2 separate regions of the Homo sapiens genome follow, and region 1 is linked to region 2. The links come from fine-mapping of genetic effects on gene expression. A gene starts in region 2. The other region holds a variant in brackets. All regions are shown on one strand. Distances are from middle to middle.

The links. PIP is the estimated chance that this variant, and not a neighbour inherited with it, causes the effect.
Region 1: its variant is the best candidate, but not a certain one, in a credible set for the expression of LINC02461 in lung (GTEx, PIP 0.68).

What each region holds. Positions count from the first base shown.
Region 1 is chr12:43,179,274-43,183,675 of GRCh38, forward strand. No RefSeq gene overlaps it. Among named protein-coding and RNA genes, the nearest start is that of LINC02461, 26 kb to the left of the region's middle. The variant T/C (reference allele first, on the strand shown) is at 2,696.
Region 2 is chr12:43,153,023-43,157,424 of GRCh38, forward strand. It overlaps LINC02461 (long intergenic non-protein coding RNA 2461), which reads left to right and starts at 2,293. Exons shown (of 4, transcript NR_146866.1): 1 at 2,293-2,843.

The DNA of each region.
Region 1 (4,402 bases), 26 kb after region 2:
AGAGCAAGACTCTGTCTCAAAAAAAAAAGAAAAAAAAAAAAGAGTTCTGTCTAGTGTACACTTCTGCTTTGTGCCGATGGTGTTTATGAAACAAAAGTATTATCACTCTTCAGAAGAGAGTTGGGGTTGAACAAAAAGAAAACAGAAAATTTGTCTGAGAAACAGAAGAAGCTGATAGCATTAGGGCCTACAGGACAAGAGAAGTTTCTCACGAGTAATTTGTGCAGGAATTAAGAGTTCATTAGAAATGACCTTTAAAAAAATAACTAGCTTATTCAAATACTGAGTTTATTTTTCTATAACCATTTTTGCCAGTATGAAAATCATGGTTATCTTGGCGGGCCTATGCAAGACAGCTGAATTCAAAGTAACCTGTTGACATATGGGAATGATAGGAGCAAATGCCAAATTGAAATAAGCAGAAGGAACATATGAAATAAATCATTGCAAAGCTGAACACATGTAGATAGAGCTGGCCAAATTAGACTTTGGGAAAAGCAAGAAAAAGCAGAATGAGATAAATGCTTGGGGTTGGAATCAAAGAATACTGTAATTCTCCTGAGGTCAGAAGAAGCTGCAACATGCAAACCTGAGCTATAGAATTTAAAGGTGGTTACAACAAAATTTTATCTAGAAAAGCCATCAAGGCTTATTCTTTAATTGTATATTTATTAAAGACATGTTACAGGATATCCCTCTTAAGCTGACCTGCCTGTTTACAATACGTGTCTACTTAAGAATGGATTTATAAACATGCATCATTTGCCAAGGTTGAAAATCTCCATCATCTTTTATAAATACATTATCCAGGCATTATTAAAAAGCTGGAACTATTGTCCCAGTGAGATGATTTCTGGCAGGTCTCTGCAGGATTTCCTGTTCTGATATCATTTGAGTAGGTGATGACCGCACGTCAGTCAGGAGCAATAGGGGCTTGCACCTGTGCTCAGTCAAAATGCATCCTATCAAATCAGGGCACTGGGCTTTCCTTTCAGTAGCCCGTTTAAAGTGGTGCTGACCTGAAAATAATCTTGTCTTACTTTTGAAATTTCCTTTTAAAATTGTTTTGAGCCAATCTGTCAACAGGTGTATGCTTTTTCCGCCAGATAGCAGCAATTAAGATATCAACTGCTATTTCTTTGATTGCAGAGCGCGGGGGATGTCCTCACTGAGCACAGTTTAGGTTAGAGGCAGCATCTGGGTTTCTGTAAGAAGCTGATTTTATCCAGTTTGGCAGCTGATTTGATTGAGAAAATGTCATCAAGTGATGTTTTTCCAGTCACAAAAAGGTACTGTGGAAAAGATCCTTAAAGGACTGTCATGAAGACCCATTGTCCCCACAGTGACTGGACACAGCCATACTTCTCTTGCTCTATGAGGAGGTTTTGAATTTAAATAATAGAGAAACACTTTAGGTTTTTATTGGCTATTTTTAAACTAGTTTCATGGAGACAGATCTTTAGTGTACATATTAAATTTTAGAGAAATATACTTTTTTGGAATTGATACAATTCTGCTTTTTATATCTTAATTTATGTGACACCACTGTCATTCAAGAAACACTATGAGTTGTTATACCTCCATGACTCCTACTTCTTGGTTCCTTAAAAGCAGGAACTTAGACAGTAATATTAATAATTATTATTATAACGATTACTTTTTATAATGCTTACTATATATACATTGGCACTGTTCCAAGTACTTTACCTGTATTATCTCATTTAATCCTCACAAAATGCAGGGAAATAGGTACTATTATTTCCCTTGAGCAGATAAAGAAACTGAAGCTTAAAGAGTTTATTTAATATTAGAGTGTTTATATTTATCTTTCTGACTCCAGTTAATTTATTTCCTAGCATAGTGTATCTGTGTGATAGGATTACGTTGTAGCCTGCCTTCAGTATCTGGCTTTCAATCCCTGCCTTAAGTCCTACCCTATAGGTTTCAACCTCTGTTCTTAGTCACTTTGGGCTCCTGTATTAGTCTGTTTTCATGCTGCTAATAAAGACATACACAAGACTGAGTAATTTATAAATGAAAGAGGTTTAATTGACTCACAGATCAACATAGCTGGGGGGGCCTCAGGTAACTTACAATCATAGTGGAAGGGGAAGTAAACATGTCCCTCTTCACATGATGGCAGCAAGGAGAAGTGCCAAGCAAGAGGGGGAAAAGAACCTTATACAACCATCAGATCTCTTGAGAACTCACTTCACTATCATTCGAACATCATGAGTGTAACTGCCCCCATGATAAAATTACCTCCCACCAGGTCTCTCTCACTACATGTGGGGATTATGGGAACTACAATTCAAGATGAGATTTGGGTGGATACCACAGCCAAACCATATCATTCTGTCCCTGGACCTTCCCAAATATCATGTCCTCACATTTCAAAATGCATCATGCCTTCCCAACAGTCCCCTGAAATCTTAACTCATTTCAGCATTAACTCAAAAGTCCACCATCCAAAATCTCATCTGAGACAAAGCAAGTCCCTTCTGCCTAGGAGCCTGTAAAATCAAAAGCAAGTTAGTTACTTCCTAGATACAATGGAGTACAGCATTGGGTAAATACACCCATTCCAAATTGGAGAAATTGGCCAAAATGAAGGGACTACAGGCCCCATGCAAGTCCAAAATCCAGTGGGGCAGTCAAATCTTAATGCTCCAAAATGATCTCCTTTGACTCTATG[T/C]CTCACATCCAGGTCACGCTGATACAACAGGTGGGTTCCCATGGTTTTGGGCAGCTCCACCCCTGTGGCTTTGCAGTGTACAGCCCCTCTTCTGGCTGCTTTCATGGGCTGGCATTGAGTGTCTGCAGCTTTTCCAGGTGCACAGTGCAAGCTCTCAGTGGATCTACCATTCCAAGGTCTGGAGGATGGTGGCCCTCTTCTCACAGCTCCACTAGGCAGTGCCCCAGTGAGGACTCTGTGTGTGGGCTCCCACCCCACACTTCCCTTTCACACTGCCCTAGCAGAGGTTCTCCAAGAGGGCCCCACCCCTGCAGCAAACTTCTGCCTGGACACGCAGGGATTTCCAAACATCGTTTGAAATCTAGGTAAAGGTCTCCAAACCTCAATTTTTGATTTCTGTGCTCCCACAGGCTCAACACCACATGAAAGCCACCAAGGTTTGTGGCCTGCACCTGCACCCTCTGAAACAACAGCCTGGGCTGTACATTGGCACCTTTTAGCCACAGCTGGGATGTAGGGCACCAAGTTCTCAGAGTGAACAAAGCAGCAAGGCCCAAAAAGCATTTTTTCTTCTAGGCCTCTGGGCCTGTCATGGGAGGGGCTGCCATGAAGATCTCTGACATGCCCTGGAGACATTTTCCTCATTGTCTTAATGATTAACATTTGGCTCCTTGTTACTTATGCAAATTTCTGCAGCTGGCTTGAATTTCTCCTTAGAAAATGGACTTTTCTATTGCATTGTCAGGCTGCAAATTTTATGAACTTTTATCCTCTGCTTCCCTTTTTTTTCCAATTCTAAGCCATATATTTGTGAATGAATAAAACAATCCTTTTAAGAGCATCCAACTGACATCTTCAACACTTTGCTGCTTAAATTTTTTTTCCTCCAAATACCCTAAATCATCTCTCTCAAGTTCAAAGTTCCACAGATCTGTAGGGCAGAGGCAAAATGCTGCCAGTCTCTTTGCTAAAGCATAGCAAGAATCACCTTTGCTTCCATTCCTGATAACTTCCTCATCTCCATCTGAGACTACCTCAGTCTGAACTTTATTGTCCATATCACTATCAGCATTTTGGTCAAAAACCATTCAATAGGTCTCTAGGAAGCTCCAAACTTTTCTACATCTTCCTGACTTCTTCTGAGCCCTCTACACTGCTCCAGCCTCTTCCTGTCACCCAGTTCCAAAGAAAGTTCCACATTTTTGGGTATCTTAATAGCAGAACCTCACTTCTGGTACCAATTTACTGTATTAGTTTGTTCTCACGCTGCTAAAAAAGACACACCCAAGACTGGGTAATTTATAAAGTAAAGAGGTTTAATTGACTCACAGTTCAGCGTGCCTGGGGAGGCCTCAGGTAACTTACAATCATGGCGGAAGGCAAAGCAAACATGTCCTTCTTCACATGGTGGCAGCAGGAAGAAGTGCCAAGCAAGAAGGGGGAAAAGAACCTTATAAAACCATCAGATCTTGTGAGAACTCACTCAGTATCATGAGAATAGCATGAGGGTAACCCCCACCCCATGATTAAATTACCTCTCACTGGGTCCCTCCCACAACATGTGGGGATTATGGGAGCTACAATTCAAGATTAGATTTGGGTGGGGACACAGCCAAACCATCTCAGCTACTATAACAAAAATACCATACACCTGATGGATTAAACAATATAAATTTGTTCTTCATAGTTCTGGAGACTGAGATGTCT
Region 2 (4,402 bases):
TTAATGTCCCTAGCACCACAACTGAAAGTCCTGCTAGAGTCTTTGATTCTAGTTTTAACCTTATTTCCTAATAAGTAATAAATTATACTTTATTCGACATCTAGCTTCTGCTTTGGTGAGTTGGAAATGTCCCACCTTGTGGGAAACGTGTCTAAGCATTTCTCTTCCCGATTTTGTACTTAGCAAGGGAGAAACTTCTTGATGTCAGGCTGTAGTTTCTGTCTCCCTTCGTCCTCCTCCATCTCCCCACCTAGAGTTAACACAAGATGGGAACAAAAGAAAAACAGTGAATGCCAAAGAAAGACCAGAAGTAAGTACATGAGACAAAAATCCAAGGCAGGAAAAACACTGAAATAATAATAGCACGAAACAATGGAGAATTAAAGAAGAATGGCAAATATGACTGAGTCCTCTAAACAGTTGGCTATAGCTCCACAATGGAAAGTCCTGCTAGGGTCTTTGATTCTGTCCCCTAAACCATCCCAGATAGTTATGTAGCATGTGGCCTCAAAGGAGGGAGATTTTCATCCTTGTCCTAAGGAACATGTTTCTGGGCTTCCCTTATCTCCCTAATCTAATCTTACCTCAAAGCCTGCTGCCACCATTCAGTTATTCTTTTTACCCCTACTCGATATACAAAATAATTATTATTTGTGATATAAAAGTTCTTTTAAGCCCAAGACAGTGACTAAGTTACATCTCAAATATTTTCTAATCAAGATATTCTTATTTTCAAGTACAATATTCCTAGGCCTCTGGTCTGGGTCTCTGTACAGACAACATAGCCGTCACTATGTAGCAAATAATAAAATTAATGTGACTTGCAATATTAATCAACTATTAGACAAAAGTTCATGAGGCGTTGTGCCATTTTTCATGTTAGCAATAGCTTTTAGCATTTTGTTTCTTTATTCCTAAAATATGGAAAAATTCTTTGTCATAGTTGCATTTCAAAATGACCCAAATACTCCTGCCAAAATAAACAACCCTAGGTTTATTTTCATTATAAGTTTCCCTCTCTTTACTGCCCATTGGCTTCATTTTTTAACCTTGTTTTGCCTTTTTTCCCCTCTGAAAACCGAAAATTTAAATTTTCTGGTTTTAAATTTTTTTATGTCTTATTGGAGTTTTAGCTGACTGTAGTCTTTTTCATGTCAGTATTATTCAAGTTTCGGAAAAGTCTCTTTACCATCTATTAACAACTAAATAATTATAAATTGTTGGCCAAAAAAAAGAGAAAGAAGAAAAGAAAAAGAAAGAAAGGAAGAAAGAAAGAAAGAGAAGGAAGGAAGGAAAGAAAGAAAGAAAGAAAGGAAAGAAAGGAAGAGTAGTGGGGGAAAAGAATAAAATTTGCCTGCACCTTTTTGTTGTTTTTTTTTTTCTCTTCTCTTTTTATTTTTTAATTTTGCCTACACCTTTTAAAGCAAAACAATTACATTTTTTCTTTTAGTTTTATAAACTAATGAAATTAATCTGTTCCAACTCAATCAGTTGTTTCATACTGGAAAATGTCACACATCGGGGCTTTTAGGAAGGAATCATTGCCGTGCCTTGGTGAAGGGTGAGTATGGCTTTAACAACTGCTGGTGGAGGAGCCTTGGAGGAAAGAACAGGATAGTAAATGCAATTGCTTGTCTCCTGAGAGTTAACTCACAGTCCAGATGTCCTACCACCTATCTACCTGTAGTCTGAAGGCACTTTGTGAGTAATAAAAGCATGTAAATTGTAAATTCTTCTCCTTTTCTCTTTCAATATCTTACAATGTATCAATGACAATTGCTATTGTTATTGGTAACAGGTTGATGTCATACCGAAGGCTTTGGAGCCAAAAAAGCTTGTGTTTGAACTCCGGCCCCACCATTGTATGGTCTTAGACAAATGACTTAACCTCTTTAAGCCTTGATGTCCATACTGTAAAAAACGAGACAATAAAACCTACTTATTGTAAGGATATAATGACATTATTAACATATCTATTCTATTGCCTGATGCATAGCATAAGCTCAAAAATACTAGTTTTCCTATTCTAAAATGTTTAAAAAAAATTATAATCCATACCTCTTCTACTTCAGAAAGTGTTTTAATACATAAAAGCAGTGATTTAGCAATATCAAATCGAAGTTTGAGAGCCAGAAGAACTTGGAGGACCATTGATTTTAAAGGTTTCTTTGTTTTTTATGAACAACAGGAATTTCCTCTTATGTCTTCAGAACCTTGAGTTTACCAGGAAGACAAGGTGACTGAGATACTTCTTTAAGCCCAGAAACTGAAGAAGGCAGCTGTCAGGGATGGCTTGGAATGTTCTACAAGGTTTATATCAACTGAGGGTTGAAAAATCCTACTTATCCACTCTCCTTACTTTAGAGATGAGGAATTTGAATCTTAGAGAGTTTATGACTTATCCAATTGGTGGTATTACCGAAAACCAAAAGCCAGTTTGCTTCCTAGTTGAATGTTCTTTCCATCATGCCATGTGGAGTTATTTTGAGTCAACCAGAAAATCTGCAAGGACATCAAAATAATGTTCTTTCTCCCTCTGACCTCAGTAATAACCGGTTAAAGATTTAGAATGCTTTAGAGTAAATCCTCAAAGCAGCTGCAGGTCCTCAATGTTCCAGAATAGATATTTTAAGTTCTCCAAATAAAAAATCCCAATAAAGACCTTCTTTTTGCAGTAACTAAAAAAGTTTCCAGCTCTCCTGTCACAAAGTGGCTATTGAGACTTCAAATGTCAGATGATCTCCTTTGAAGCAGCAAAATAGAGTGGATAGAACTCCAGGATGGATGTCAAAAAACTCTGTGATCCTAGTTCTAACTCAAATTTACCTTTCATATGGTATGAGGTAAGCTTTAGATATCTCTGGATTTGAAGTTATTTTTGACTCCTATTTTTCTCACACACTGGTGTGTGTCCATATCTAGCCCAACAGCAAAACTTGGTGGTGCTATATTCAAACTGTATCCAGAATCTGACCACTACTCACCACTGCCACTGCTACCACCTTCATCCAAACCATCATTGTCTCTCCTCCGGATAATGGAAGAAGCCTCCTAATGAGTCCATCTGCCTGCTTCTCCCTTTCCTTCTCTGCACATCAGTAATTCCAGAGTTTGTCAGTGACACTTTCATAATTGACTTGTTCTTCACTTGGTAATCTTAATTTGTTCCTAAAAATCCTCCCACAAAGTAAAATGCCATTATGTGAAAAAGCGTTTTTATGAATTTGAATTTAAAAATTTAGGAAGCATTTTATCCCAACCCAACATACCCAAAGCATTTTTATAGATAGGAAAATATTTTAACTGAACAATAGAAATATTTTTCAATTGTCATGACATTATATAAGTAATGAACATCAAATTGAAAATAAAATAGAGTTTGTTCATAAAATGTAATAACATGAAGGTTTATGTGATGGTGAGTGCTGGTTGGTGGGGGAGTGTTAAAGGCAGTTGTTCTTTGTAAGGTATATTTTGCTCTCTGAACAATTTTGTTTATGAATGTTTTCAACCATTTGGAGGATCATGGTTAACTTGCACTTACAGCACACTTAACATTTAAAGTTATAGCAGAGAAGACAATTTCAGTCAAAATAATAGCTGAAGATGAGAGCACTTGGAAAGATGTGAAAATTTATTTAGTACACAGAGACAGAAAAATTACAAAAGATGTTACCTCATCATCCCTCTCTCTAGTCATACTTAGACAAAATGAAATACTTTCAGTTTATCCAAACACGGCACTCAGTTCAAATTTGTTCTGATATTCAATGATTAAGAACTGATGACTAAGAACTGTTAGAATAAAAATAGCATATTTTCCCAAAAGCTGCAGTGTCAAAATATCATGCTTATTTACTTTATATGTTTTAGAGTATCTATCTATCTATCTATCTGTGTGTGTGTGTGTGTGTGTGTATATATATATATATATGTATTTTAGAAGAAGTTGTTTGGAAAAGGGTAACTTCTCAAGAGACTTTATGGCAAAAGGTTGTTAACTAAATAGGTTCTGTGGGTGTAAGTCTGTGTTTACCAGTCTTTTTATCAAGGTTTCTAATTCTTTGTTAGGTGGTGTAGGACACTGCTGGCTTGTGTATAACCCAGGAATCAGAACATAGGGCAGAATGTCCACCTAACACAGTTCATGTTATTTCTTGAGTTCCAGTTATACACCACGTATCCTGATAAAACAAGTCATACAAGAAAAGGGCTATTATCACCCTCAAGGAGTCCTCAGCCTAGTTGGGGAGGCAGTAGGGCGGATGTATAAACTCTATAATATTATGAGTACTGCAATACAGAGTGTTCTGGGGCAGACAGGAGGGAGTCCCTAATTATCCCCAGGGTAGGGTGGAATTGTCAAGGGGCAACATAGAAGAAGAAACATCTAAAGTGAACC